3 separate regions of the Homo sapiens genome follow, and all the other regions are linked to region 2. The links come from fine-mapping of genetic effects on gene expression. A gene starts in region 2. Each other region holds a variant in brackets. All regions are shown on one strand. Distances are between the middles of the regions. Region 1 holds the start of C19orf84 (chromosome 19 open reading frame 84). Region 2 holds the start of SIGLEC10-AS1 (SIGLEC10 antisense RNA 1). Region 3 overlaps LIM2 (lens intrinsic membrane protein 2).

The links.
Region 1: its variant is fine-mapped to the expression of SIGLEC10-AS1 in whole blood (TOPMed, PIP above 0.99).
Region 3: its variant is fine-mapped to the expression of SIGLEC10-AS1 in whole blood (TOPMed, PIP above 0.99).

The regions. Positions count from the first base shown.
Region 1 is chr19:51,387,482-51,398,097 of GRCh38, forward strand. It overlaps C19orf84 (chromosome 19 open reading frame 84), which reads right to left and starts at 3,110. Exons shown (of 2, transcript NM_001193623.2): 1 at 2,997-3,110; 2 at 808-2,028. The coding sequence starts at 3,031. The coding sequence ends at 1,503. LIM2 (lens intrinsic membrane protein 2) reads right to left here and starts at 493. Exons shown (of 5, transcript NM_001161748.2): 1 at 438-493. It also overlaps the pseudogene NIFKP6. RefSeq lists enhancers at 6,381-6,977, 8,033-8,242 and silencers at 6,883-6,942, 6,953-7,092. The variant G/A (reference allele first, on the strand shown) is at 5,040.
Region 2 is chr19:51,411,201-51,421,816 of GRCh38, forward strand. SIGLEC10-AS1 (SIGLEC10 antisense RNA 1) reads left to right here and starts at 4,524. Exons shown (of 3, transcript NR_164125.1): 1 at 4,524-4,932; 2 at 5,229-5,530; 3 at 5,932-6,997. SIGLEC10 (sialic acid binding Ig like lectin 10) reads right to left here and starts at 6,442. Exons shown (of 11, transcript NM_033130.5): 1 at 6,345-6,442; 2 at 5,882-6,265; 3 at 5,466-5,750; 4 at 5,110-5,157; 5 at 4,698-4,967; 6 at 4,368-4,415; 7 at 3,981-4,238; 8 at 3,624-3,908; 9 at 3,222-3,315; 10 at 2,512-2,623; 11 at 1-171. The coding sequence starts at 6,381. RefSeq lists enhancers at 6,372-6,541, 6,602-6,671.
Region 3 is chr19:51,373,593-51,380,086 of GRCh38, forward strand. LIM2 (lens intrinsic membrane protein 2) reads right to left here. Exons shown (of 5, transcript NM_001161748.2): 5 at 6,317-6,494. It overlaps LOC124904752 (a long non-coding RNA gene), which reads left to right. Exons shown (of 2, transcript XR_007067312.1): 2 at 168-321. Among named protein-coding and RNA genes, the nearest start is that of NKG7, 4.2 kb to the left of the region's middle. RefSeq lists a silencer at 2,935-3,192. The variant G/A (reference allele first, on the strand shown) is at 2,371.

The DNA.
Region 1 (10,616 bases), 24 kb before region 2:
TGAATTCCCGGGACTTGAAGGGAGGAACTGGGGGGAGAGAGGGCTCAGGAGTGGGATGCCAAGTGCTTGGGAGAAGGAGATGGAGACCTAGACGCCTGGGTCCTGGGCGAGGAGGGGACTGGAGCCCGGACTCCTGGGTCTGAGGGAGGAGGATGGTAGGGATCCTGGAAAGACAACAGGGAGAGCGGGGCTGGGTTCTGGGAAGAAAAGGCCGGGGGCCTGGACTTCCAGGTTCTGAGCAAGGAATAGGCTGGAGGCCTAGCTTCCTGAGTCCTAGGTGAGAAGGGGCCCAGGAGCCTGGATTCCTGGGTGGTGGGTAAGGAAGGGGCTAGGGGCTAGGGGGTAGGACACCAGGTCCTGGGAGAAGAAGGAGCTGGGACCCTAGACTCCTGGGACTTGGGGAAGAGGGGGCTACAGGTCTCACGCCTGGTGCCTACCTGAGTGGCAGAGCCTGCCCGAGCCCTCCTTCTGCCACGGCCCCTCTGTGCAGACTGAGCTGAGCCTGGTCACTGGCCTCTTTGCCCCCTTAGGTTCCCCAAATCCCTTAAGCCTCCCTACACAATGGTCCCACTACCCAGCAGCTTCCAGCAGGCAGAAATGCAGCGGTGGCAGAGGCCTCAAATGGAATTCGCTGAAGCAGGCATCCAGGGGGCTCCCCCCACCCACTCACTGACCTCTGTGACCCTCCCCGGAACCCAATACCTTGTCGCCAGCCTTGCTCAAAGCAACCCTGGCTTTGTCCGAGCTGTGTAAGCACGCACACACGCACACACACACACACACACGGGCGCGCGCACACACGCAAGATTCAGGGAGAGTCATGCGTTTATTGTTCAACCAGGGCTTTCTACCTGAAGAGCAGGCAGTGGGGTGGGGAGTCACAGGTGTCTGGGTATGTGGGGCCAATGCGGTTCTTTGTGGGGATGGACACAGGGCTGTGGCTGAGGTTGAGGATGGAGCTCTTTGGGGCTGTAGATTCAGAGGACATTAAAGATGGGCTGAGGTACACAGGCAATGAGGAGAAAGGGGTTGGTAAAGAGGGTGGGTTAGGGTTGAGGCGCAGAAGTGGAGCTGGGACTGGTGACAGGGATGGGAATGAATGGGTTTGGGAACAGGGTATTGAGAGTGGGGAAGAGAGAGGCAGGTAGGAGTGGCTTTGGGATTAGGGAGAGGATAGGGAATGGGGTTGGAGGAGCCCTGGGGGTTGAGAATGAGGTAAGGATTGTGGTTGTGGTTGGGGATGGCATTGGGAATGGGGTTGAGGCCATCAAGGAGACAGGTTTGGGTACGAGGTTTAGGATTTTCTTCTCACTTGGGATTCAGGTGACTTAGGTCAGGTTCACCAAGTGCCTCACAGGAGCTACTCCTGGGATTGTGGTTTTGGGGAGAGGGGAGGATGGAAGATGTTTCTTGGGGTTCTTCTGACAGGGCTGAGATCACTCTGGGCCCCAGGAAAACCCTCCTGGGTGACTGCAATCTCAGGTGCCTGACCCTCCAAGGTCCTAGTACTCTGTCTCCCAGTCCTCAGCAGCCAGTGGTGTTTCCAGGGGTGGCTCTGGACCTCGAGCTTCTTTCTTCCCATCCTGGGCAGGCAGTGTTGGTGGTGATGGCAGTGTCATTGGTGGGGTCCTGGGGCCAGCCCCAGGGCCCCCCGCCCGGCCCCTCTCTGGCTGCTCAGCTCTCCCAAGGCCCCGTCGATGCAGGCCTCGGCCCCAGCCTGGCCTGTGCCTGACTTCCCAGCCTCCGCGTCCCCTGGGAGGCCTCCTAACTGCCCCCGGCTGGGAGTGGCCTGCCTGGGAGCAGCAGGGGCAAGAGGGCAAGGCCTGTTGGAAGGTGTAGGCCCCCAGCAGGGCGCTGTGCAGGAGGCAGGAGAGGGTGTCCAGGCGTATGGGCACGGTGACAGAGGCCACGCTCTCCGGGAGCCCCAGGTGGGTGGGGTCTGTGGAGTTCAGGAGCAAGGGTGGAGGGGCTGGGAGAGGCGCAGGGGGCCATGGCTCGGTCCCAGATGACGGCAGGGACAGGTTGTTCCTAGAACAACAAAAAGACAGGTCAGTGGGGCTCAGCGTCTCCGTACTTTCTTGTTTCTCGCTGCCAGGCTGTCTCTGCACCTCTGCAGAAGGCAGCCATCTCTCCATCCTCAGTGCCCACCTGTGACTTCCTCCCCCGCTTCTCTCTTTTTGTTTCTAACCCGGGTCTCTCTAAAGAAACAGACAGCTCTGCCATGAACTTCGGCACCAGACAGAACTCAGTTCCAATTCCTGGTGGCCTCGCTTTTGGTGGTGTATCTTTGGACAAATCATTTTCCTATTCCGAACCTTAATTTGTTTATAGTCACAGATGGCTTTGGATGGTATCAAAGGTGCGTATGACAGCGCTGGGTCTGGTAAGTGCTAAAACAGTGGACAGCTACGATTTCTCCAGCCTTCTGGGGATCCCTGGAGTCTTCACATTTCTTGGTTTATTCTTGGAAATTTCTGTTCGATGAGTATCTGTTTCTAGCTCTTTTTTTTTTTTGAGATGGGGTTTCACTCTTGTTGCCCAGACTGGAGTGCAATGGCGCTAACTTGGCTCAACGCAACCTCTGCCTCTCGGGTTCAAGCGATTCTCCTGCCTCAGCCTGTCGAGTACCTGGGATTACAGGCACGCACCACCACGCCCGTCTAATTTTGTATTTTTAGGAGAGACAGATTTCTCCATGTTGGTCAGGCTGGTCTCGAACTCCCGACCTCATGTGATCCACCCGCCTCGGCCTCCCAAAGTGCTGGGATTACAGGCATAAGCCACTGCACCCGGCCTCCGCCTGTTTCTAAGTATCTCGCTCAACTCTCACCAAGATCTTCTAAGATTCTGTACCTATGTGATGATACCTGAGCCTTTTTTGTTTTTCCTGATTCTCTATGCAGGTCTGTTCAGCGCGCCCTTTCTCTCTCGTTTTCTCTGTCCCCTCCTCTCTCTGGGTCTCTGTCCCCCTCTCAGGAGGTCTTTGTTTGTCTCACCCTTCAGGCCCAGCCCCGTCCTTTGGTTGTTCCATCTCCACTGGGGCCCTCTTACGTATCTTCTAGCAACTTCGCCTCCGAGATCCTTCGGGGGCCCGGGAAGGTTGGGGAGGGGCCGAGGCCGAGAGAGGCGGGGCTTGGCCGGGTCAGAAATGGGGCGTGGCTCGCGGAGTTATCCGGGATCCCAAAAGAAAGAGCTCAGGCGGGGACCTGGATCTAGTTCCCCAAGATCACTTACTTAAGGCCTCCAGCACCCTGTAGCCCCTCCTCCCTCAGACCCAGGAGTCCAGATCCCCAGCTCCTCCTCGCTCAGACCCAGGAGTCCAGATCCCCAGCTCTTCCTCCCTCAGACCCAGGAGTCCAGATCCCCAGCTCCTCCCTAAGACCCAAGAGTCTAGATCCCCAGCCCCCTCCTCCCTCAGACCCGGAAGTCTAGGGCCCCAGCCCCTCCTCCCTCAGACCCGGGAGTCCAGATCCCCAGCTCTTCCTCCCTCAGACCCGGGAGTTCAGATCCCCAGTTCCTCCTCCCTAAGACCTAGGAGTCCAGATCCCCAGCCCCCTCCTCCCTCAGACCCGGAAGTCTAGGGTCCTAGCCACTCCTCCTTCAGACCCGGGAGTCCAGGCTCCAGCCCCTCCTTCTTCAGACCCCGTACTCTGGTTCCCCAGCCCCCTTCCTCTCTCAGATTCAGTAGTCCCGGGACCCCTGCCCCCTTCTCTCTCTCTCTCTGTCTTTCTCTCTCTTTATTCCTGCCATATCCTCAAGACAGATTCTTTAGGACTCAAGGGACGTTTTAGGTAGGGAAATGTGGACACTCCCTAGGGCAGAGGGCGTGGTAGATGGTCTGGAGGTCTTAGCCATTCTAGGCGCTGGGTTCTACTAGGTGCCGTGTCTCTAACTTGCTTTGTTACTTTAGGTGCTTCTACTCTCTATGCCCTAGTTTCTCCATCTGAGAAATGGGGCTAATATTACTGTCCAGGTTCTTGTGATATTACTTGTGTATTAGTAGACACAGAATCTGGACCACAATTAGGCTGAACACATGAGATTTACTTATTGTTATTGCTGGTGGTTGTGACAGTGTTTTGCTGAGAAGCAATCGTCATTATTACATGCATTCATTTAAGAAATATTCAATGCCTGCTATGATTTGGGCTCCAGGCTGCACACGGGACAGAATAGACATGGCCCCTACTCTCAGGAAACTTGCATGCTTGTAAGGGAGACAGACGAGACATACATAGCATATATTCTGTAAGAATATGTACCTGAAGATGTCAAATCAGGGCAAGAGGATATAGAGTCACCGAGGTAGGGAGATAGAGCAGATAACGTGGTTAGGGGCCTGGCCCGGTGGCTCACGCCTGTAATCCCAGCATTTTGGGAGGCCGAGGTGGACGGATCACTTGAGGTCAAGAGTTTGAGACCAGCCTGGCCAAGATGGTGAAACCCCATCTGTACTAAAAATACAAAAATTAGCTGGGCGTGGTGGCAGGCACCTGTAATCCCAGCTATTCGAGAGGCTGAGGCAGGAGAATCGCTTGAACCTGGGAGGCAGAGGTTGCAGTGAGCTGAGATCGTGCCGCTGCACTCCAGCCTGGGCAACAGAGTGAGACCCTGTCTCAAAAATAAATAAAATAAATAAATAAATAAATAAAAATACAAAAATTAGCCAGGCATGGTGGGGCATGCCTGTAGTCCCAGCTACTTGGGAGGCTGAGGCAGGAGAATCACTTGAGCCCAGGAGGCGGAGGCTGCAGTGAGCTGAGATGGCACCATTGCACTCTAGTCTGGGCTACAGAGTGAAACTTCATCTCAAAAAAAAAAAAAAAAAAAAAGAATAAAAAATTAAGTAGATAAGATGGTTAGAAAAGGCTGTTATGGGAAGGTACTGGAAGACTGGAAGTTGAATATTCCTGGGGAGGGAACAGCTTCTGAAAGTAAAACAAATGTAGTGATTCAGGGACTGGAAAATAATCAGCTAAGAGGAGTGGCATAGGTATTTATATTTTTAAATAAATGCTTTATGTTGCAATACTTTTTGC[G/A]TGTGTTTTTTTTGAGACAGGGTCCCCCTCTGTCACCCAGGCTGGAGTGCAGTGGTGTGATCATGGCTCACTGCAGCCTCAACCTCCTGGGCCCAAACCATCCTCCTACCTCAGCCTCCCAAGTAGCTGGGACCACAGGCACACACTACCACACGGGGTGCCTTATTTTGTAGAGACAGGGTCTCAGAATGTTGTCCAGGCTGGTCTCAAACTCCTGGGTTCAAGAGATCCTCCTGTTTTGGCCTCCCAAAGTACCAAGAGATTACAGTCATGAGCCACCATGCTTGGCCTGGAATACTTTTATACTTAGAGAAAAGTTACAAAGATAATACAGAGAGTTCTCATTTACTCCAGACAGGAGTTCCCCTAATGTTGCCATCTTACATTGTCATGTAATGTACATGGTACATTAGTCACAACTAAGAAACTGACAGGACTATTAGGTAAACTGCAGGCTTTATTTGGATTTTACCAGTTTTTACACTAATGTCCTTTGTTTCTGGTCCTGGATCCAATCTGGACTACCACATTGGATTTAGTCATCCTCTCTCGTTAGTCTTCTCTAATCTGCAGCACTCTCTAAGTCTTTCCTTGTTTTTCACAACCTTGAGAGTTGGGGGAGTTCTAAATTATTTTGTAAAATGAAGGTCTTTTTTTTTTTTTTGAGACAGGGTCTCCCTCTGTCACCTAGGCTGGAGTGCAGTGGTGCTATCTCAGTGCACTGCAACCTCCACCTCCCGGGTTCAAGCGATTCTCCTGCCTCAGCCCCCTGAGTAGCTGGGATTACAGGCGCCTGCCACCACGCCCCGCTAATTTTTGTATTTTTAGTAAAGATGGGGCTTTACTATGTTGGCAAGACTGGAGATCTATTTTAATGAATAATATGAACTAATTTAATCCACATTTTAAAAAATTATGTATTTATTTTAATAGAGAAGAGGTCTCTCTATGTTGGCCAGTTGGTGTTAAACTCCTGGCCTCAAGCAATCTTCCCACCTCGGCCTTCCAAAGTGCTAGGATTACAGGGTATTTTAAAATTTTTATTTATTTATTTATTTATTTATTTATTTATTTATTTATTTAAGACAGTCTTGTTCTGTCGCCCAGGCTGGAGTGCAATGGCACGATCTCCGCCCACTGCAACCTCCGCCTCCTGGGTTCGAGCGATTCTCCTGGCTCAGCCTCCCAAGTAGCTGGGATTACAGGCATGTGCCACCATGTCCATGTCCAGCTAATTTTTGTATTTTTAGTAGAGATGGGGTTTCCCCATGTTGGCCAGGCTGGTCTCGAACTCCTGGCCCCACGTAATCCTCCTACCTTGAGTGCTGGGATTACTGGGATAGGCCCCCGTGCCTGGCCCACAACATTGCATTTTAAGGAGGAGAAGTCCCAGGCAACAGGATCGCCCTATGCTGGACGATGTTAGTGGCACTGAGTGGCCGGAATAAGATTTTTGCCAAGAGATCTGGCTTGCTTTTCTTTCCTGGAGACTGATGAGAACCCAGATCTTCAGATTTCAAGTCTGGGTCTATCCATTCGGTTACTTTAAATCCCAGAGGCAGATGGCGCTCACTGCTCAAGTCTAGCGTCATGGGATTGTTCTAGCTTGTTCTTTTATTGCTTCTCCTATTACTAAGATCAGGATCTGACGCCATTTGGAAACCAGGGTCTGACCGCTTACCACGTACCTCGCCCTTTAAGGCTTTTTCTGTCCCGTCCCCCGTGCCCCTGCGGCGCTAGGAGACTGGAGGCGGGACCTTGTGTCGCTAAGGAAATGCCCTTTACTCAGCTTCCAAAATTGACAGGCTAGTTCTGAAAACTGGCCAACCAACTTCTGCTTAAGGGGAAGCGAGACTTCCGATTTGTAGGGGAACGCAGCGGCGATTGGTTAGAGTCCCGCCCACTTGTTAAGCGTCGCGAGCCACTATTCTCGGCTCTGATTGGCCAGAGAACTCGCGCCGCTTTTGAATCCCCACCCTGCGGACCCCGCGCGCCTCGCCTTCTCCCTCTGGTTGGCGAGCGCCTTTCTGCGCCTTCAGGCATTTTTGCTGAGGCTTTTGTCTGCGCATGTGCGGGTAGGTTCCGGTAGCATCCGGGAGACCCGGCCCAGGCCTGGAGATGCTGAGCGGAGCTTGGAGGGAGAGAGGGGACTGGGTTGTTGAGGGGAGAATCCCTCTCGGCATCTCCTTGGCCCACTGGGGAGCCCCATTGCCCCATCCACCGCTTAGAACCAGACCCTTCCTTTCACTCTCCACTCCCTATCCCTACCGGCTTTAGACCTTCAAAGTTCCAAGATTCGACCTTCGGGGTCTCCCCATTTCGTAGGGGCTTACAGATTTCCTAAAATCCCCCTCCTCCCCGAACCCCCTTCCGTCCCTGGAGATTCTGGGGTCCCTGCTCTTTCCCATTCATTCCACCCCATCTACTTGGGACCCTTCCAAGGGCAAGGGGGGCCTCTCAGTGCCTCTCCTACCCTCATGTCCTTTCTCCTCTTTTAGGTCCAGGAGGTCATCTTTGCCTCCCTTCCTTGAAATCTCCCCAGATTTAGAGGCCCTCACCCAGCTTCTCCCCTCTCAGCCCTGTCGAGGTGTCAAGGTTCGGGGATCACCTTTGTTGTTGTTATTGTCGAGGCGTCAAGGTTCGGGTGTCACCTTTGTTGTTGTGTGTTTTTTTTTTTTTGAAACTGAGTCTCGCTCTGTCGCCCAGGCTGGAGTGCAGTGATGCGATCTCGGCTCACTGCAACCTCCGCCTCCCGAGTTCAAGCGAGCCTCCTGCCTCAGCCTCCCGAGTAGCTGGGATTACAGGTGCCTGCCACCAGGACTGGCTAATTATTGTATTTTCAGTAGAGACGGGGTTTCACCACGTTGGCCAGGCTGGTCTCAAACTCCTGACCTCAAGTGATCCACCCGCCTTGGCCTCCCAAATTGCTGGGATTACAGGCGTGAACCACAGCGCCCGGCCTAAGCCCTAGCTGTTCATTGCCACAATGAGAGGAAGTACAGGAAGGTGTTGAGATCATGGGCGTGGAGTCCAACTGACATGCTTGACTGATGTCACATACTGCTCTGCCCCTGAAAAGCTGAGTCACCTTGGGTAATTTGCTTAGCCTCTCTGAGCTTCAGTTTCACTCGGGAGCTGGCCAAGAACACTTGTCTCAGAGTTGCTATGACATTCGAACATGGCAGTGTACGTAAAGGGCTCGGCATGGAGCTTGTTCTCATTAAGCCCCATGGCACGTGGGCATCTATGCTTTTTTTTTTTTTTTTTTTGTAGAAAAAAGTTTATTTGCTGGTTATTGTTTGATCCTTGAAATACAATTCCTCACTGGTGATACTAGTATAAAATGGTGGTTATGAATCCATGCTAGCCCAACGAAAACTAATTTAACAAATTGGTAAAAAAAAAAAAAGAAGTCGTTTTTGAATCTCTATTAAGATTTGAACTAATACATAAGCAAATCTGTGCTAAAACTGGAACTGCTGGGCCAGGCGCGGTGGCTCACGCCTGTAATCCCAGCACTTTGGAAGGCCAAGGTGGGTGGATCACGAGGTCAGGAGTTCGAGACCAGCCTCACCAACATGGTGAAACCCCGTCTCTACTAAAAATCAGCTACTGGGGAGGCTGAGGCAGGATAATCACTTGAACCCAAGAGGCGGAGGTTGCAGTGAGCTGAGATCGCGCCATTGCACTCCAGCCAGGGGGACAGAGCAAGACTCCATCTCAAAACAAAACAAAACAAAAAACTGGAACTGCCTTCTCACACTACATATAATTTGCCTTCCAGCTTCAACCATCTGATGTTGAAATCTAAAGCACTCTCATGAGTTAAATGTCCCTGACAAACCATGTAGATGGACAAACCAGATTGGTGGTCTTTAACTGCTGGTGATAGAAAAAGGCTGCAGTTTAGTACTTAAACCTGCAGTTAGTGGTCAACTTTCCATCTAGGTAGAGTAACTAAGGAGAGCTGTGAAATATCAAAAGAAAACTAGAGGCCAGGACAAAGAGGCAATGTCAGTCAAGCCACTGCAAGCTGGTATGCACCCTTGTATTTCAGCCAAAGGCAGGCAATCCAAAATTACAGATTGCTTTCCTTAACTTGACCAAACAGTGCATTTTACCTCTGAAAGTCTTGTCAAGGGTTGCATTTCATTGTACCTAGTAAAACACAAAGTCCACTCTCATAAAAATATTATATTTTCCAGAAGAAATATTATATGTAATACACTGAAAATCACTGATTGCTTTTGCTTCTTTTTTTCCGTGAATGTGTAGGTGTTTGAGTCTCTTGTGTTTCTTATTTTACATAGGATATGGGCTGTTTGAAAACTATTTCATTAGCTTCATCATCGTCATTCATTTCAGCCATTTCAGATTTTCGTCTCTCCAAAAATGTTGGTGTACAAACTGGTGTGAGGCCCTGGATATCCACAGTCTTCTCAGGAGTGTCAAGAGTGCCTAAAACCTTTTTCTTCTTCTTATGTAAAAGATGGCCTTTTGTAGACGTCTGACAATTAGTTTTTGAAATACTTTCTGTTTTCTGGAAAATCAAAGAAGGAAGAAGGAAAATCATAATCAATTCCTTTTTTTTTTTTTTTTTTTTTGAGATTGAGTCTTGATCTATCGCCTAGGCTGGAGTGCAGTGGCCCAATCTCGGCTTACTGCAACCTCTACCTCCCAGGTTCAAACAGTTATCCTGCCTCAGTCTTCCAAGTAGCTGGGATTACAGGTGCCTGCCACCATGGCTGGCTAATTTATGTATTTTTAGTAGAGATGGGGTTTCACCATGTTGGCCAGGCTGGTCTCGAACTCCTGACTGTTGGGGTGATCAGACCCAACACTAGACTGTGGGGGCTATGAAGTCCGGCGGAGTCAAAGGAATGAGAAAAGACAAGAGTGCATAAGATGGGTCCAGGGGACCAATGCTAGTATGGAGGCTGCGAAGGCCGCAAGCTCTGGAAGCCCGCACTGTTTATTGGTGATCAAACAAAGAAGCAGGTAGTGAGGATGTGGGGGTTGAAAGAAAGTGGTGCATCAAGCGCATGATTTACAGCTGTGACAGTTTAGCATTTTCTTTGACGCATATGGAACATGTTCTGCTACTTGAGATAATGGGAAACATGTTCTTCTAGTTTAAGATACACTTGATCTATGAGCCTGGGAATGCTAGAAGCAAGGAGCCGGCAAGTCTAGACACATTCCAGAGGCCACGAGGGGTTTCATGCTCTGAGCCCTGGATTCCATCCAAGCCATGAGGGGTTTTATGCCCTGGGCTTAGATTACGGTGCCGCAGGGCAGCCTTCCACCCTTTAGCACAGAGCTTGGTGTTCCAAAGACCACAAGGGCTTTTAGACCCTGGACCCCGGCATGTTCCAAGACTCTTTATATTATGTCAGACTAGCAAGCCCTGCCTCAGCTTTTTTCTCACTACTTAGCTTTTCTCCAACATGACCCCCTTTTCTTTTTTGTAAAACCACCACAGCTATCATTGCTTGTTCTCGATGGTGGCTTTCTCTCCAGAGGTGGCTTCCGCATCTGCAGACTAAAAGGAGACAGCACAAGCACATAATTATTAGA
Region 2 (10,616 bases):
CTCCTCTTGGCTCTCCTGGGATTCTGGGGCTTGAGTGGATGATTTGGGTTCTGGGAAACTGGGCAACTGATACTGCTTTTTCTGGTTCTTCTTTGATTCTGGGGAGGGAGCACCTGGTGGAAGAGGGGTCCGAGGACTGTTTGGTGTGGCTTTCTGATTCCGCTTCTGAGCCTGAGGGAAGAACCACCATCCTTCATTCATTCATTCAGCAAATATTTGAGCACTTACCACGCGTCGGGCACTGATTTACAGCACAGAGTGAAACTAAGTCCCTGCCCTTGCCTTGCTGAGCTTGCATTCCATCTTGGAAGGAGGAACAGACAATAATTAGCAAAAGTACAATGACTGGTAAGTGACAAATGCCATCAAGAAATTTGAGCACCTTTAGAAGGCAGCGAAAGGGAGGGTGGGATGACTGTTTAATAGGTCATCCAGGGAATTTCAAGACCGGCCTGGCCAACATAGCGAAACCCTGTCTCTACCACAAATACAAAAATTAGCCGGGCGTGGTGACACATGCCTGTGGTCCCAGCTACTCAGGAGGCTGAGGCAGGAAAATCACTTGAACCTGAGAGGTGGAGGTTGTAGTGCGCTGAGACTGCGCCACTGCACTCCAGCCCGGACAACAGAGACAAAATCTGTTTCAAAAAAATAATTGATAGCCGGGTACGGTGGTTCACACCTGTAATCCCAGCACTTTGGGAGGCTGAGGCGGGTGGATCACCTGAGGTCAGGAGTTTGAGACCAGCCTGATCAACATGGTGAAACCCCGTCTCTACTAAAAATACAAAAATTAGGGGGGCATGGTGGTGGATGCCTGTAATCCCAGCTACTCAGGAGGCTGAGGCAGATGAATCGCTTGAACCAGGAGGTGGAGGTTGCAGTGAGCCGAGACCTTGCCACTGCACTCCAGCCTAGACAACAACAGTGAAATCCCATCTCAAAAAATAAAATAAAATAAAAATAAATAAAATAAAGAATAGCATGCATGCACGGAGAGAAAGACTGGAGGGGGTGAGAACGGAAGCAGAGAAGGCATGCAGAAGGGGCCAGTGGTGCCCGGGGTGGGGTGGGGGGTGTTGATGCATGGCTTGTAGTAGTGAGGGAAGAGTAGGGAGAACTGGCTTGGTTGTATTTTGAAGGGAATTTGCTGATGGATTGGTTGTGGGGTGACAGAGAAGAGAGGAGTGAAATATGATTCTAAAGCTTTAGACTTGGCTGGGAAAATGTGGTGTTATTTGCTAAGATGGGGATAGAGATGGAGCATAAATGGTGGAATTAGTCTTTTTTTTTTTTTAGATGAAGTTTCGCTCTTGTTGCCCAGGCTGGAGTGCAGTGGCATGATCTCACTGCAACCTCCACCTCCTGGGTTCAAGTAATTCTCCTGCCTCAGCCTCCCGAGTAGCTGTGATTACAGGCACCCATCACCATGCCCAGGTAATTTTTTGTATGTTTAGTAGAGATGGGGTTTCACCATGTTGAACACGCTGCTCTTAAAATTTTGACCTCAGGCGATCCACCCACCTCGGCCTCCCAAAGTGCTGGGATTACAGGTGTGAGCCAGCAGGCGTGGCCTTTTTTTTTTTGAGACAGGGTCTCACTCTGTCACCCAGGCTGGAGTGCATGGTGTCATCATGGCTCACTGTAGCCTCCAACTCCCAGGCTCAAGAGATCCTCCCACCTCAGCCTCCCAAGTAGCTGGGACAATGGGCATGCACCACCACACCCGGCTAATTTTTTATTTTTTTTGTAGAGAAGAGGTCTCACTATGTTGCTCAGGCTGGGGAATTATCTTAAGTTGGTTTTGGACAGGCTAAGTTTGAAGTGCTGATTAGACACCCACATGGAGATGTTGCATAGACAGTCTTCAGGGAAGGAGCCACGAGATACAATTTTGCAGTCATCAGCATAAGATGTTATCTCTTAATAATTTCCAGAATTTACAGAGTATTACCCAGGGGCCAGGTGATATTCTGAATATTTTATTATGCAAGTACAATATATTTAACACCCAGCATCATCCTAGGAGGTGGCCGCTAGTATTGTCTCCATGTTACAGCTAAAGAAATTGAGGCACAGAGAAGTTAAGACACTTGTTTCATGACACAGTGATGACAGCAGGATTTGAACCCATGCAGGCTGATTTCAGACCCCCTGTGCTGAATCCCTAGGATGCCCAGCCTCCCGATGATACACATAATTGTTAAGCAGTTAAGTGTAGTCATGTCAATGGTGGCAGTAATAATGGAACAATGGCTACAGATTGAGAAAGTGCATGTATTCTAATCCTCAAACCAACTCTCAAAGGAGACAGAGGAAGAAATGAAGGCTCAGAGGGGGTGAGTGACGTGGCTGAGGTCTCATAGCTAGTAAGTGCCAGGCAGGATTTGAATTCAGAACTATCGGTGCTTTTCCCACCTTGATGTCGCTAAGACAAGGGGTGCAAAAGTCAGAAAGTGGGATGTCAGCTTTAGAGAAGAGAAAAAGTGGAAGCATGGCCCAGACACTCACCAGGGGGCCAGCCGTCGGGACCACATTGATGTAATCCAGGATCGTGCTGTGCCGGGAGAACCTGGGCCTCGGGGTTTCTGTCTGAGTCCGTCTCTTCGGTAGAATCTTCATGCTGAGGAAATGAACCCACCTGTTTGTGCCCTGCTGCACCTCCCTGTGACAGACTGCCACGTTTACTACCTGAGACCGTCACTATGACAGTTACTACTGTTACCACTTGAGACCGTCATTATGAGACTGAAAGAAGGAGGACAAACGTAGAAATGAAAACTTAAGACAAAAGAAATTATTTTAAAGGAAGGGGTCAGGGGAAGAAGAAGAGGGTTCCCTGCTACTAGTGAGCCAGGGCAGCTGTCTGAGCCTCTACAGCCCTTTGTATTTATTGGGTAGAAAGAGCAGAGAGCAGGAGGTAACAATTGGTCAGCTGTTTAATTGATCACAGGTTCATATTATTACTAACAAGCTTCAGCTGTGCCTAATTACAAGAAACACTTCGCTTGGGGCGTGACTGCCCTCAGCATTCCCTCTGGGAAGCAGACGCAGTTTGTCAGTTGGACAACATTCTGCATTTATGAGAACAGTTTGCTGTTTACTCATGTAACCTCCAGAGGTATACTGCGTTGATCACGACCTTCACTCTTTCGGCCTGCAACACCTCCCCTCTTCCTGGGTCCAGGCCCCAGACCCCGCCACGCCTCCTCTTAACCTACATGATCAGGGCCAGGCAGAGGAAAAGAAGAGCCGTGATGCCGATTCCCAGAAACGCTCCGTTGGAGAATGCCGTTGAGATGAGTCCCTTCTTATCTGCACACGGAGAGGGCAAGGTGAGCATTTCCCATCCACGCAGGGCTCACGAAGCCCGCTCATCACTCGGCATTAAGGCTTCCGGTTCCCATGGCGGACATTGTATCTGCAACCCCTCTGTTTACTTTTAGGAAACCCTGCCACACCCCGGCCCAGGTGTTAGGACTTCCCATTGTGTTTTCCTGTCTACATACAGATGCCACGGGTCTGCTGTGTCCCTCCAAGCTCCTGCTCCAACCACAGGACCCTACTCTTTGCCCCAGTCAGCTTCTCCTCCAAGAACCTTGGCATCCAGGCGGCCCCCTAACCTGGCAGCTGCAGGATGGATCCACTCTGGGCCCCATGGACGTTCCAGGCCTCACAGCGGAGCCTGAGGCCGGAGCTGAGCCCTCCATGGAGGCTCAGGGAGCTGTTGGCCCAGGGCCCGGCTGAGCTGGGGGTGACCTCGAAGGAGTCCTGGCTGCTGTTCCCCTCCAGCAGCTCCTCCCCAAGCCACCAGCGCAGAGAGGGGGCCGGGCTGGCCTGGGAGGAGCAGCTGCAGTGCAGACCCTCAGCCTCCCAGGAGCAGGAGGGGCCCAGCAGCTTCGGGGAGTCTGAGGGGAGGGAGGACAGGACTCAGCAGGGTCCCCTTCCTGGGACCCAGGTGTCCCCTTTCCCCCACTCACAGTGCACGGAGAGGCTGAGAGAGACGTGCTGGGAGCCCAGTGGGTGCCGAGCGTGGCAGGTGAACTCTCCTTCGTGCTCCACTTGAACCCGAGGCAGCTCCAGGACCCCGGGGTCTGAGGGCTGGGAGGGGCTCAGAACCTGTCCCCTCTGGGTCCAGCTCAGCCTGGCTGGGGGGCTGCTGTGTGTGACACAGACCAGGCACAGGCTTTGGCCCTCCAGTACTGGGAGAGACGTGCCGTTCCCAAGGTTTTCCAGGACTAGGGAAGGAAGAGGCAGAATCGATGAGCAGCTCAGGGCTCAGGGACCCTCCTGCGTGGGGACCCTCCAGACTCCTGGGCCCCCAATTCGGCACTGAGAGGCCTTGGCTCCTCTGTCCCCTTTCCTACCTGTCCTGTTTGCTTGGGAAACCATCACTCTCAGGTTCTCTGGAGGATCTGAAATGGAGACAGGGGACCGGCTCTAGACGGACCAGGGGCTTCCCTCTGGGTAAAGGGAACCATCCTGGACACTGAGGTGGGGGAAGTGGGTGGGATAGAAGGGCAGGGCAGAATCACCCACTGAGTCCCAGACACAAACTGCATGAGGGTCTACACAGGTAAGAAGGTCGGTCTCCGAGGCCTGGGGCTCCAGGCCCCCTCAGCTCTGGGACCCTGAGCCCAGCCCCTGTATCCCTCTGCCCTCCCAATGGACTCCAGGCCCCTGCTGGGCACACTCACACTGCACAGAGAGGTCCAGGGCTCGCTGCTGGGAGCCAAGCCTGTTCTCCGCTCGGCAGGTGTAGCGCCCTGAATCCCCAGCCTTCACCCCGGGCAGCTCCAGCCCCAGGGGTCTAGGGCCCCAGGGATGGGACGAGGAGAGGACTCTGTTCTGCAGGACCCAGCTCAGTGTGGCAGGGGGCTGGCTGTCAGCAGCACAGAGGAGCCGCAGGAACTGGCCTTTTTGGGCTTCCAGGTATGGGACATTTCCCTGGGGCTGGGGCTCCAGGGCTGGAGTGGGAGGAAAAAAAAAAAAGAGAGAAAGGGAGGGAGAAAGAGAGAAGGGGTACAGGGAGGAGCACATCCCCTCATCCCCTGAAGCCTTTTCATCTAAAGACAACTGGCCCAGCCCCAGCCCGACGGCCCTCAGTACCTGGCGTGTTGTCACGTGAAATGCTGATAACAAGGTCTCTGGGGGCATCTGCAACAAGATTGTGAGCTGGCTTCAGGGAGGGACAATTTATTCCTCACACCTGGAAAAAACTCCCTCAGGGAAAAGAAAGTGGGACTATCCCGGGAAGACAAGTGACAACCAGCGCCAGGGCTCACGTGTGTGGACCAGACGCCATTCCCATCCCCCTCCCAGGGCTGCGGCGGCATCCTGGGACCCCACAGCTTCCTCTCCCTGGATGCTCCTGAGCTGGGAGCCGCTCACTGTCCCACTGGGCTCCTCCACCTCCCCACCCACCGGGGCTGTCTGCACACCCCACCCTCCCAGGCCACACTCACAGGCCACACGGAGTCGGACGGTCCTCTGTGCGCTCACACCCTTTCTGGAGAAGTCCACATGGCAGGTGAGGTCGGTGTTGTGGTCCTGGGGTCTGGGCGTGAAGCTGAGCACTGAGAAGTGGGAGGTCGTTGGTTTGGTTCCTTGGGAGGAGAGGGCAGCCCCCGTCCAGGAGAAAGAAGGGGGTGGACATTCCTCAAAGGCCCAGTTAAACACACAGATGACCGTCACCGGCTGCCCGGGCTCCAGGGTCTCGGGGATGTAGACATCAGGCTTCTGAGTCAGGGCTGGGACAGAGACCGTGGTGGGAGATTCTTGTGCTGCAGGGGTCCCTGAGAGCCCTCTCTGCTCAGCCCATAGGCTGTCCCCAGGGTCCCTCCCCAGTGTGAGAGGCAGGGGTTCCCACCCCATTCCATACCTGTTACTTTTAGAAAGAACCCATCGTTCATGAAATTATATCTCACATAGCTTCCTCTCTCCACCCGAAAGAAGTACTGTGACTCATCCTGCATCTGCGCGTCTCTGATCACCAAGGAGCAGTTCCCCTTGGCGGGATCCCCAGTGAGCTGGAATCGGCCCCGGGTGCTCATTTCCACCTCTCGACTCTGGTGGTTTGTGGCCACAGGAGCACCCTTGGTTGTCTCAGTCACTGCTTTGAACCAGTAGCCATAAGCTGGGGTAGACCCTGTCCAGTCCTGTCGGGGGTAGGAGAAAGAGCAGGGCACAGAGATGCACAGGCCCTCCGGCACCATCACTGACTCCTGCACTCGTATCCAGAATCTCCCATCCATAGCCTGGGACCCTGTGGGGAGACAGAGGCTCAACCTGCAACCCCAGCCCTAGCTCCGCCCCAGGTCCTTTCCGGCCCTTGGCCCACTCACCGCCCAGCAGCGAGGACAGCAGCAGTGGCAGTAGCATCTCCGCATAGGAGGCGCAGGGCCTGCCTGAGACAGGCCTGTTCTCTGGTCGTGCTGTGAGTGGCTCAGGGCTCTTGGCAGAAGGGGAAGCCGAAGGCGGAAGCTGAGCCCTGGGGCCTGATGCATGAAATGAGCTTCAGACGCTGAGCTCACAGAACTCCTTTGCCTTCCCCCACACTCTCCGGCCCACCTTGCCCAGTTGTCCTCTGGGTCTCCTGGGGGCCCAGCCTGGCCTTGGGCTTGTTGAGCTGGTCCTTCCAGAGCTCCCTGTGTAGGAGGAGAGGGCAGGCTTGTGTCTATCCTGGGGGCCTGGCTGGGGGTGGGGTAGTGGGGTGGGGGCTCTCCCTCTGGGCCCTGGGTCATCGGAAAAGCAGAAGTGAGAAGTCCACAGTGAGCTACCCTTATCTGGGCCACTGGTGGTGGAGGTGGTGGGTACAGGGGAAGGGACCGTTACTGGAGGGGGCTGGTCTTGTCAGGTAAAATGCAGGATGCCTGGTTAAAGCTTTCACAGACAATATAAAGTATTTTATTTTATGTTTTTTGGTATAAGTATGTCCGAAATGCTGCATGGGATATACTTATACCAGAAAGCAAAATAAATTTATCTGAAATTCAAATTAATTAATTAATTAATTATATTTTGAGACAGAGTCTCACTCTGTCACCCAGGCTGCAGTGCAGTGGTGCAATCTCTGCTTACTGCAACCTCCACCTCCCAGGCTGAAGTGATTCTCCTGCCTCAGCCTCCTGAGTCTGGGCTTACAGGCACGCGCCACCACGCCAAGCTAATTTTTGTATTTTTAGTAGAGGTGGGGTTTCACCATGTTGGCAGGGCTGGTTTTGAACTCCTGACCTCAAATGATCCACCTGCCTTGACCTCCCAAAGTGCTGAGATTACAGGTGTGAACCACCGCACCTGGCCTAAAATTCAAATTTAACTGAGCATGTTGAATTTCTTTTTTTCTAAATCTGGCCACCGTAGGGTGGTGTCAGCTCCACCTCTTCATGCTTCCTGGTGAGCTCACTGACCCTTGGTCCCCAGAAGCAGTCTCCTGCCCCAACCAGGCCCTAGTCCACTTCCCAGTCTCCCTTCCTCCTCTGTCATTCAATTGGGACACCCATTGGGATTAGAACACATATGTCCAAAGCTAATGCTGATGGGAAGAGTTTGAGGAAGGCGGGAGTGAGGGGCAGAGTGGGGGGAACAGACTAGGGAAGGGGTAATTTGCAATGAATGGAGTAAACTCTACAAGATGTTTTCCCCTCACTGAGCTCTTCCTGAAATGACTCTGTTTGGGTCACACCGAAACACAGAACTCATCCTTCAACCTCCACATACCTTGGGTATCAAGCACTGAGCTTTAGGGGGACTTGGAGGTGAATCCTCCATGGTGAGTCAGCTCCAGGGCCCCAGGTTAGCAAATGAAGATTCTTAGAAACAAAGTACAGAAGGTCCCCTAAATGAACTGGATGCTGGACAGACATTCAGGATGGGACCTGGGGAAGGAGTGGTCAGCTCTTCCTGGTGGAGGGAAGTCAGGAGAGGCCTCCTGGAGGAGATGACCCAGCCTCTGCCCTGTCCTGGTTCTTTCATCCATGGCATTTTTGTTTTTTGTTTTTGAGACAAGGTCTTGCTCTGTTGCCCAGGCTGGAGTGCAGTGGTGTGATCATGGCTCAGTGCAGCCTCCATCTTCTGGGCTCAAGCGATCCTCCCACCTCAGCCTCCCAACTAGCCGGGACTATAGGCACACACCACCACGCCCAGATAATTTTTGATTTTTTTTTTTGATAATTTTTGTAGAGACAGAGGTGTTTGTTTGTTTGTTTGTTTTTGTTTTTTGAGATGGAGTTTCCCTCTTGTTGCCCAGGCTGGAGTGCAGTAGCATGATCTTGGCTCACTGCAACCTCCACCTCCGGGGTTCAAGCGATTCTCCTGCCTCAGCCTCCCAAGTAGCTGGGACTACAGACATGCGCCACCATGCCTGGCTGATTTTGTATTTTTAGAAAAGATGGGGTTTCTTCATGTTGTTCAGGCTGGTCTCGAACTCCTGACCTCAGGTGATCCACCCGCCTCAGCCTCCCAAAGAGCTGGGATTACAGGCGTGAGCCACTGCACCTTGCTGAGACAGAGTTTCACCATGTTGGCCAGGCTGGTCTTGAACTCCTGGGCTCCAGTGATCCTCCCGCCTCGGCCTCCCAAAGTGCTGGGATTACAGGTGTGCTCCACGGCCTCATCCACTGTATCAGTCGCTTGAGCTGCTGTAACAGCGTGCCCCAGACAGAGGGGCTGAAACAACAACATTGACTTCCTCACAGTTCTGGGACTAGACGTCCAAAACCAAGATGTGGTTCCTTCAGAGGCTTCTGCCTGGCTTGCAGATGCCACTTCTCCCTGTGTTCTCACACAGCTGTTCCCCTGTGGGTGTCTGTTTCCTCAACTCCTGCTCTTATAAGAACTTACAAGAACTCAAGTCATATTGGACTAGGCCCACTCTAGTCCAAATGAGTGACCTCATTTCAGCCGGCCCTCAGTATGCACAGGTCCCACATCCCGGAATTCAACCACCTGCCCATCACGGCATTTAAATACAAAACCAACAAAAGCCAACATAACCATAAAAAACAGCATGAATTAAAAATACAGCATAACAACTATTTACACCGCATTACACTGTATTAGGTGTGATAAGTAACCTGGAGATGGGAGGATGTGCAGAGGTCCCACGCAAACACTACTGTATAAGGCAGCTGAGCATTGTAGATTTTGGTATCCAAGGGGTGGGGATCCTGGAACCAATCCCCAACTAATACAGTGGAACAACTGTATCTCTTTAAAGACTGTCTGCATGTACAGCCACATTCTTAGGTACTGGAGGTTGGGACTTCAACACAGAAATTTGGTGGGGGGAGGGGGGACACAATTCAGACCCTAATATCCACCTCTCCCCATTTTTTTTTTTTTTTTTTTGAGAGAGAGTGTTGCTCTGTTGCCCAGGCTGGAGTGCAGTGGCATGATCTTGGCTCGCTGCAGCCGCTCCCTGTCTGATTCAAGCGATTCTCTTGGTGCAGGCTCACGAGTAGCTGGGACTACAGGCGCCTGCCACCACGCCTAGCTAATTTTCATATTTTTAATTTTATTTTTATCTTTTTTTTTTTTTGAGACTGGGTTGTGCTCTGTCACCCAGGCTAGAGTGCACTGGCATGATCTCAGCTCACTGCAACCTCTGCCTCTCGGGTTCAAACGATTCTGCGTCAGCCTCCCGAGTAGCTGGGATTACAGGCGCCTGCCACCATGCCCAGCTTATTTTTGTATTTTCAGTAGAGACAGGGTTTCACCGTGTTGGCCAGGCTGGTTTCGAACTCGTGATCTCAGGTGACCCTCTCACCTCGGCCTCTCAAAGTGCTGGGATTACAGGCGTGAGCCACCAAGCCCAGCTTCACCTTCCCTTTGATCCCTGCTTCCCTGTGACCTAATCTGGGCCTTCTCTGAGGACACCAGCCTCCTTCCCGCAGGGGAGCTCTTGTGGTGGGACACATCACACCTTCCTCTCCACAGAGCTCAGAAAAGGGCCTCTCCCAGGGAGGAGTGAGGGGAGGAAAGGTGCCTGGGTCCTGGTGGAGGTGGGTCCCTAAGGAGCTGATGATCTCTAGGGCCCCCAGCCTGGGCCCAGCCCCACCTCTGCCTTTGAACATTTCACACCCATGGGATCAGCCGACAGGAGCCAGGAGAGCGGCACCGTCTTCCTCCTCCCGCGGGTTTCTCCACATCGCTGCCCCCTCCCATTCCCCCCTCTTCACTTTTCTGAGTTCCTGTGGTTTCTGTGGCCTCCTCACCACGTCCCCTTCTCCAGCGAGGCCAGAGCCCCCGACGCCCCGACTTGCTCCCAGCCCTTCCTACCCAAGCCGCCCTCCCAGCCTTGGTCAGACAGGACTGGAGAGGCTGCCTGGGGCCCCGGGACTGGTTTCTGGGCAGCCTCAAGTCTGTTTTCTGGCCTGAGAAGGTTCGGGTTTTCCCTGAGCTGCTTCCCTCCAAAACCAGCTCCCTCAATACCAGCCTCCCACCCCCGCACCCGCCTCTCCTTCATTCAGCAGGGGCTAGGCGCCTGCTCTTCCTCCATAATTCCACACGGAGGGGTTTAGGAAGCCCCACCCAGGCTCCAGACCCCGGAGCTGCACGAGGGCACAAGTGGGCGCTGGAAGGAAGGGCGGGGACGGTGGGAGGTGGGGGAGGGAGAG
Region 3 (6,494 bases), 40 kb before region 2:
GGTTAGGGTTTGTGTCCCTACCCAAATCGCACCTTGAATTGTGTCCCCATAATCCTCACGTGTCTAGGTAGAGACCAGGTGGAGGTAATTGAATCATGGGGCCGGCTTCCCCCATGCTGTTCTTGTGATAGTGAGTGAGTTTTCACAAGATATGGTGTTTTTTTAAGGGGCTCTTCCTGCCTTCGCTTGGCCTTCTTCCTGCCACTCTGTGAAGACAGTGGCTTGCTTCCCCTTCACCTTCCACCATGATTGTAAGTTTCCTGAGGCCTCCCCAGCCATGCTGAACTGTGAATCAAATAAACCTCTTTCCTTTATAAATTACCCAGTCTCAGGCATTTGTTGTTGTTGTTGTTGTTGTTTGAGACAGAGTCTCACTCTTGTCACTCAGGCTGGAGGGCAGTGGCAAAATCTCGGCTCACTGCAATCTCCACCTCCCAGGTTCAAGCAGTTCTCCTGCTTCAGCCTCCCAAGTAGCTGGGATTACAGGTGCCCGCCACCACACCCAGCTAATTTTTGTATTTTTAGTAGATTTCAGGTTTAGTAGATTTTCGGGTTTTCACCATGTTGGACAGGCTGGTCTTTAACTCCTGACCTCAGGTGATCTGCCCACCTTGGCCTCCCAAAGTGTTGGGATTACAGGTGTGAGCCACCACGCCCGGCCAGGCAGTTATTTATAGCAGTGTGAGAATAGACTAATACATAGGGAGTAGTCTGGAAGAGGACCTCTGTCTTGGAGATGAACTGGTCCAGCAGTCCCAGGACAGCTGGCAAATGTGGAGAATGGGAAATGACCTGGAAGACTGGTTCCTCTCCTTTATTGGAGAGACTCAGATCGGCAGCCCCCATCCTTCACTCAGATCTGCACCACTCTGAGAACACATTTATGAGCACAGGCTCCCAGAGGTGGCAGAGGCCATGAGCAGGCCAGGTCTCCGGAAAACCTGCCATGGTGTGCAGTGAGTAGCAGGTCAGAGCACACAGCCTATCTATCTGTGACCCTGACCCCCTCCCAAACCCAAAGCCATCCTTAACCCCAAACCCAACTCCATCCCCAAACTCAGTATCAAGCCCAGTTCCAACCACAAATTCAACCCATCCCTATCCCCAAAGTTAACCCTATTCCCATTCCTGAACACAACTCCATACCCAATCCCATCCCTATTCGTAATCTCCACCCTAGCTCCAACCCCCATCCTCAAATAGAACTCCATTCTCAGTCCCAACTACACACTCAACCCCATCCCCCGATTCGCCCCCATCCCCAAACCTAACGTCATTCTAATTCCCAAACTCAACATCATCCTTATTCCCAGTTCCAACCCTTATACCCTTCCCACCCTCAAATCTAACTCCATTCTCATTCTGAAACCCCACCCTATCTCCAAACCAAACCCCTCTCCATTATTAACCCCAGCCCCTACTCCAAACCCAACCCCATCCTCTTCCTGAAACTTGACCCTATTCTCATTCCCATCCCAACCCTTTTTTTTTTTTTGAGATGGAGTCTCACTCTGTCACCCAGGCTGGAGTACAGTGGCATGATCTTGGCTCACTGCAACCTCCGCCTCCTGGGTTTAAGTGATTCCTGTGCCTCAGCCTCCTGAGTAGCTGGGGTTATGGTTGTACGCCACCACACCAGGCTAATTTTTTTTTTTTTTTTGTATTTTTAGTAGAAATGGGGTTTTGCCATGTTGGCCAGGCTGGTCTTGAACTCCTGACCTCAGGTGATCCACCTGCCTCAGCCTCCCACAGTGCTGAGATTACAGGAGTGAGCCACTGCGCCCAGCCACTGTCTTTTCATTCTTCTCTGCAACCTCTATAATTCATACCTAACTCCGACCATTTTCATTCTCCTTTCACCTCCAGGTCCAAGCCTGTAACCTCATTTCTCATCTCCCCAAGTGGGTCCCACTACCACCACCATCACACCCATGCATGCATGCATACACAGAGGTGACCTGTACCTGGCTCCAGTGAGTCTCTGCACATGTAGGTATCACAGGCTGATCACAGGCCCAGGCCCTCTGACAGACACCACAAGCCAGTAAGAGCGGGTGAGTGAAGGTCATCTTTTTTTTTTTTTTTTTTTTTTTTTTTTGAGACGCAGTTTCACTTTTGTTGCTCAGGCTGGAGTGCAATGGCATGATCGGGGCTCACAGCAACCTCTGCCTCCCAGGTTCAAGAGATCCTCCTGCCTCAGCCTCCTAAGTAACTAGGATTACAGGCATGCGCCACCATGCCCGGCTGACTTTCTATTTTTAGTAGAGACGGGGTTTCTCCACGTTGGTCAGGCTGGTCTCGAACTCCTGACCTCAGGTGATCCACCTGCTTCAGCCTCCCAAAGTGCTGGAATTACAGGCGTGAGTGACC[G/A]CACCCAGCCAGCCAAGACCATCTCTTAAGAGCACAAAGGCAAGGCAGCTGGGGCCTTGAAGACAGAATTGCTCGCAGGATCTCCAGCAGCTTTCTCAACCAGATGTGGTCTGTGGTTGCCAGAGGAAAACCCCAGGCCTCCTTCTGAAGCTTTTCCTGAGAGCTCTGTGAAAGGAAAATCTTGGGGCCCCAAAATTACTGAGCTAAAGGGGAAAGTCAGGCTGGGAACAGCTCAGGGCAAACCTGCCTCTCATTCTATTCAAAGTCATCCCTCTGCTCACTGAGATCGATGCATATCTGATTGCCTCCTTTGGAAAGGCTTATCAGAAACTCAAAAGAGGCCATGCCTGTAATCCCAGCACTTTAGGAGGCCTAAGCAGGTGGATCACCTGAGGTTATGAGTTCAAAACCAGCCTGGCCAACATGGTGAAACCCCATCTCTACTAAAAATACAAAAATTAGCCGGGCATGGTGGTGCACGCCTGTAGTCTCAGACTCAGGAGACTGAGGTAGGAGAATCACTTGAACCCAGGAGGTGGAGGTTGCAGTAAGCCGAGATTGTGCCACTGCACTCTAGCCTGGGCAACAGAGTTAGACTCCATCTAGGAAAAAAGAAACTCAAAGAATGCAACAATTTGTCTCTCACCTACCTGTAACGTGGAATCCCCCTCCCTGCTTTGAGTTGTCCCCACCTTCCTGGATGCACCAATGTACTTCTTACATCTATTGATTGATATGTCATGTCTCCCTAAAATGTATAGAACCAAGCTGTGCCCCGACCACCTTGGGCACATGTCGTCAGGACATCCTGAGGCTGTGTCACGGGCGCATGTCCTCAACTTTGGCAAAATAAACTTTCTATTGTTCTTTTTTTTGAGATGGAATCTCGCTCTGTTGCCCAGGCTGGAGTGCAGTGGCACGATCTCGGCTCACTGCAAGCTCCGCCTCCCGGGTTCACGCCATTCTCCTGCCTCAGCCTCCTGAGTAGCTGTGACTACATGGCAAAATAAACTTTCTAAATTAACTGAGACCTGTCTCAGATTTTCGGGGTTCACAGCTCACGTCGCCTGCTTGGCCACTTGGTTCTCTTAGGTCTCTGTCAGTCTTGTCTAAGCACTGTCAGTTTTTTTGAATCACCCAGGTCTCTTCCAACTTTCTCCAGCCCCTTCCAACCTCTCCCGGGCTTGAAAGCTCCTCAGTAGCCCCCATCTGCCACGGAAGACCCCAAAAAATTAGCTGGGAGTGGTGGCGTGCACCTGTAATTCCAGCTACTCGGGAGGCTGAGGCAGGAGAATCGCTTGAACCCGGGAGTCAGAAGTTGCAGTGAGCCAAGATCGCACCACCGTACTCCAGCCTGGGTGACAGAGTGAGACTCCATCTCAAAAAAAATAAAATAAAATAAAATTTAAAAAGACTAATCCTCAATTAACCTACGTTCTATTAAAGAAATGAATGCTAATGGTAAACAGTTATTATGGAAGGCATCATCATTTCTATTGAGGTGCACTCTAGTCATAATATTTAATGGCTATTATAATGATAAAAAGATATTAAATCTCAGTATCATTAGAGTACATTTCAATAAATAATACTTTATGTAAGTCAATAAACAGCACTTACTTTATGTAAGTCAGTTGGCCTGAATAAAGATTTATTGTTCAACAAATGTTCTTTTGAGTGATTACCATGTGCCAGGTGCTGTCTTTGAGGATTTACAGGAAACCAAAAGCAGACACAGGCCAGCTGGGGTGGCTCACGCATGTGATCCCAGCACTTCGGGAGGCCAAGGTGGGAGGATCACTTGAGACCAGTAGACAGAGACCAGTCTAGGCAACATAAGGAGACCCCATCTCTACAAAAAATTAAAAAATTACCCAGGCATAGTGGGTGGTGCATGCCTGTAGTCTTAGCTGCTCAGGAGGCTGAGGTGGGAGGCTCAGTTGAGCCTGGGAGGTGGAGGCTGCAGTGAGCTGTGATCACGCCACTGCATTGTAGCCTGGGCAAGAGTGAGACCCTGTCTCAAAAAAAAAAAAAAAAAAAAAAAGCCAACATTGAATCCCAAAGTTGTTGGCTTGAGTAGCTGGATAAAAATGGGGTTGTTTGGCCGGGCGTGGTGGCTCACACCTGTAATCCCAGCACTTTGGGAGGCCGAGGCGGGCGGATCACGAGGTCAGGAGTTTGAGACTAGCCTGGCCAACATGGTGAAACCCCGTCTCCACTAAAAATACAAAAATTAGCTGGGCGTGGTGGCAGACGCCTGTAATCCCAGCTACTTGGGAGGCTGAGGCAGGAGAATCACTTGAACCCAGGAGGGGAGGCGGAGGTTGCAGTGAGCCGAGATTGCACCACTGCACTCCAGCCTGGGCAACAGGGCGAGACTCCATCTCAAAAAAACAAATAAGTAAAATAAAAAATGGGGTTGCCATTTCCTAAGATGGGGAAGACCATGGGAGGAACACATAGGCTGTGTGTGAGATCAGGAACTTATTTTTGGATATGTGAGATTGGAGATGCCTCTTCTTTTCAAGTGGGAATGTTGAGTAAGTAAGTTGAGCAGGTAAGTTGGAGTCCTGAGTCTGGAGTCATAATTATATCATTATTATTGCTAGAGTAAGCCCCTATAAATATGATTACTAGAATAAGTCTCGGCAAATATTTCTATTTAAATAGGCCTCAATAAATTATTAGAGAAATCTTCAATTGTCATTATTATTAGAGAAAACCTCTATAAATACAGTATTTTTATTTGAGGAGGCCCCAGTAAATATTATTTTAGGGAATAAGCCTCTATAAACATAACATTTATTAGCATAGCTGTAGTAAATAGTCTGATTAGAATCAGCCTTATGAAATAGTCTTATGATAGACATCAGTAAATCTCATGGCAGTTAGCAACCATTTATTTTCTTTTTCTTTTTCTTTTTTATTTTGAGACATAGTCTTACTCTCGCTCAGGCTGGAGTGCAGTGGTGCTATCACAGCTCACTGCAACCTCCGTCTCCTCGGACTCCAGCGACCCTCCCACCTCAGCCTCCTGAGTAGCTGGGACAGGCACACACCAACATGCCCAGCTAATTTTTTTTTTTTTTTTTTTTTTTGTAGAGATGGGGTTTTCTCATGTTGCCTGGGGGACTCCTGGGCTTGAGCAATCCACCTGCCTTGGTTTTCCAAAGTGCTGGGATTACCGGTGTGAGACACCACACCCAGCCAGCATCAATTAATAGAATGAATTACTAATGAGTGAATGAAGAGAAGATCACGGTCATGAATGGTGTGTGAAGAGCAGGTGCCGGAGGTAAGGCTCAGGGTTCTGGTGTTTCCTTTGAAGGGACGCATCAGGGGAGGAGAGAGGAGGCTGGGGAGAGCCAACTGGAGGCGGGGTGGGCAGGGAGTTTTTTCAGAGATCTTTTCATTTGTCCGATTATCCTACACATCCATATCCTGGAAGTTGAACTGTGGTGAGCTCCTGGACACGGACTGTTGATTCATCTCTGTTCCCCTCCGTGCAGAAACTGAGAAGGTCAGGCCTCCATAATACAGCACCCCTGGGCCGGGTGCAGTGGCTCACGCCTGTAATCCCAGCACTTTGGGAGGCAGAGGTGGGTGGATCATCTGAAGTCAGGAATTCGAGACCAGCCTGGCCAACATGGTGAAACCCCATCTCTACTAAAAATACAAAAAGTAACCAGGAGTGGTAGTGGGCCCCTGTAATCCCAGCTACTTGGGAAGCTGAGGCAGGAAAATCACTTGAACCCAGGAGGCAGAGGTTGCGGTGAGCTGAGATCGCACCATTGCACCCCAGCCTGGGCAACAAAGGCGAAACTCCGTCTCAAAACAATGAAGACAACAACCACAAGAAAAACACACAAAAAAGCACCCCTGCCCACACCCACCACCCTTACAGCTGTTTCTCCCCATCCTAGTCCCTCAAGTATTAACACTTTAGTAGTTTCACATCAGTTTTATTAGGCCCCAGAAAGTTGCTCTAATGGATAGTCCATTTTTCTAACAACCTGCCAGGCAGACGGGGACTTGAGTCTTCTCAGCTCCCTCCCATGGGCCCTATTCTTCCTCCTTCCAGCCTAGGACCAGGAGTCAGCCTCCCCCCACAAACCCACAGTCCA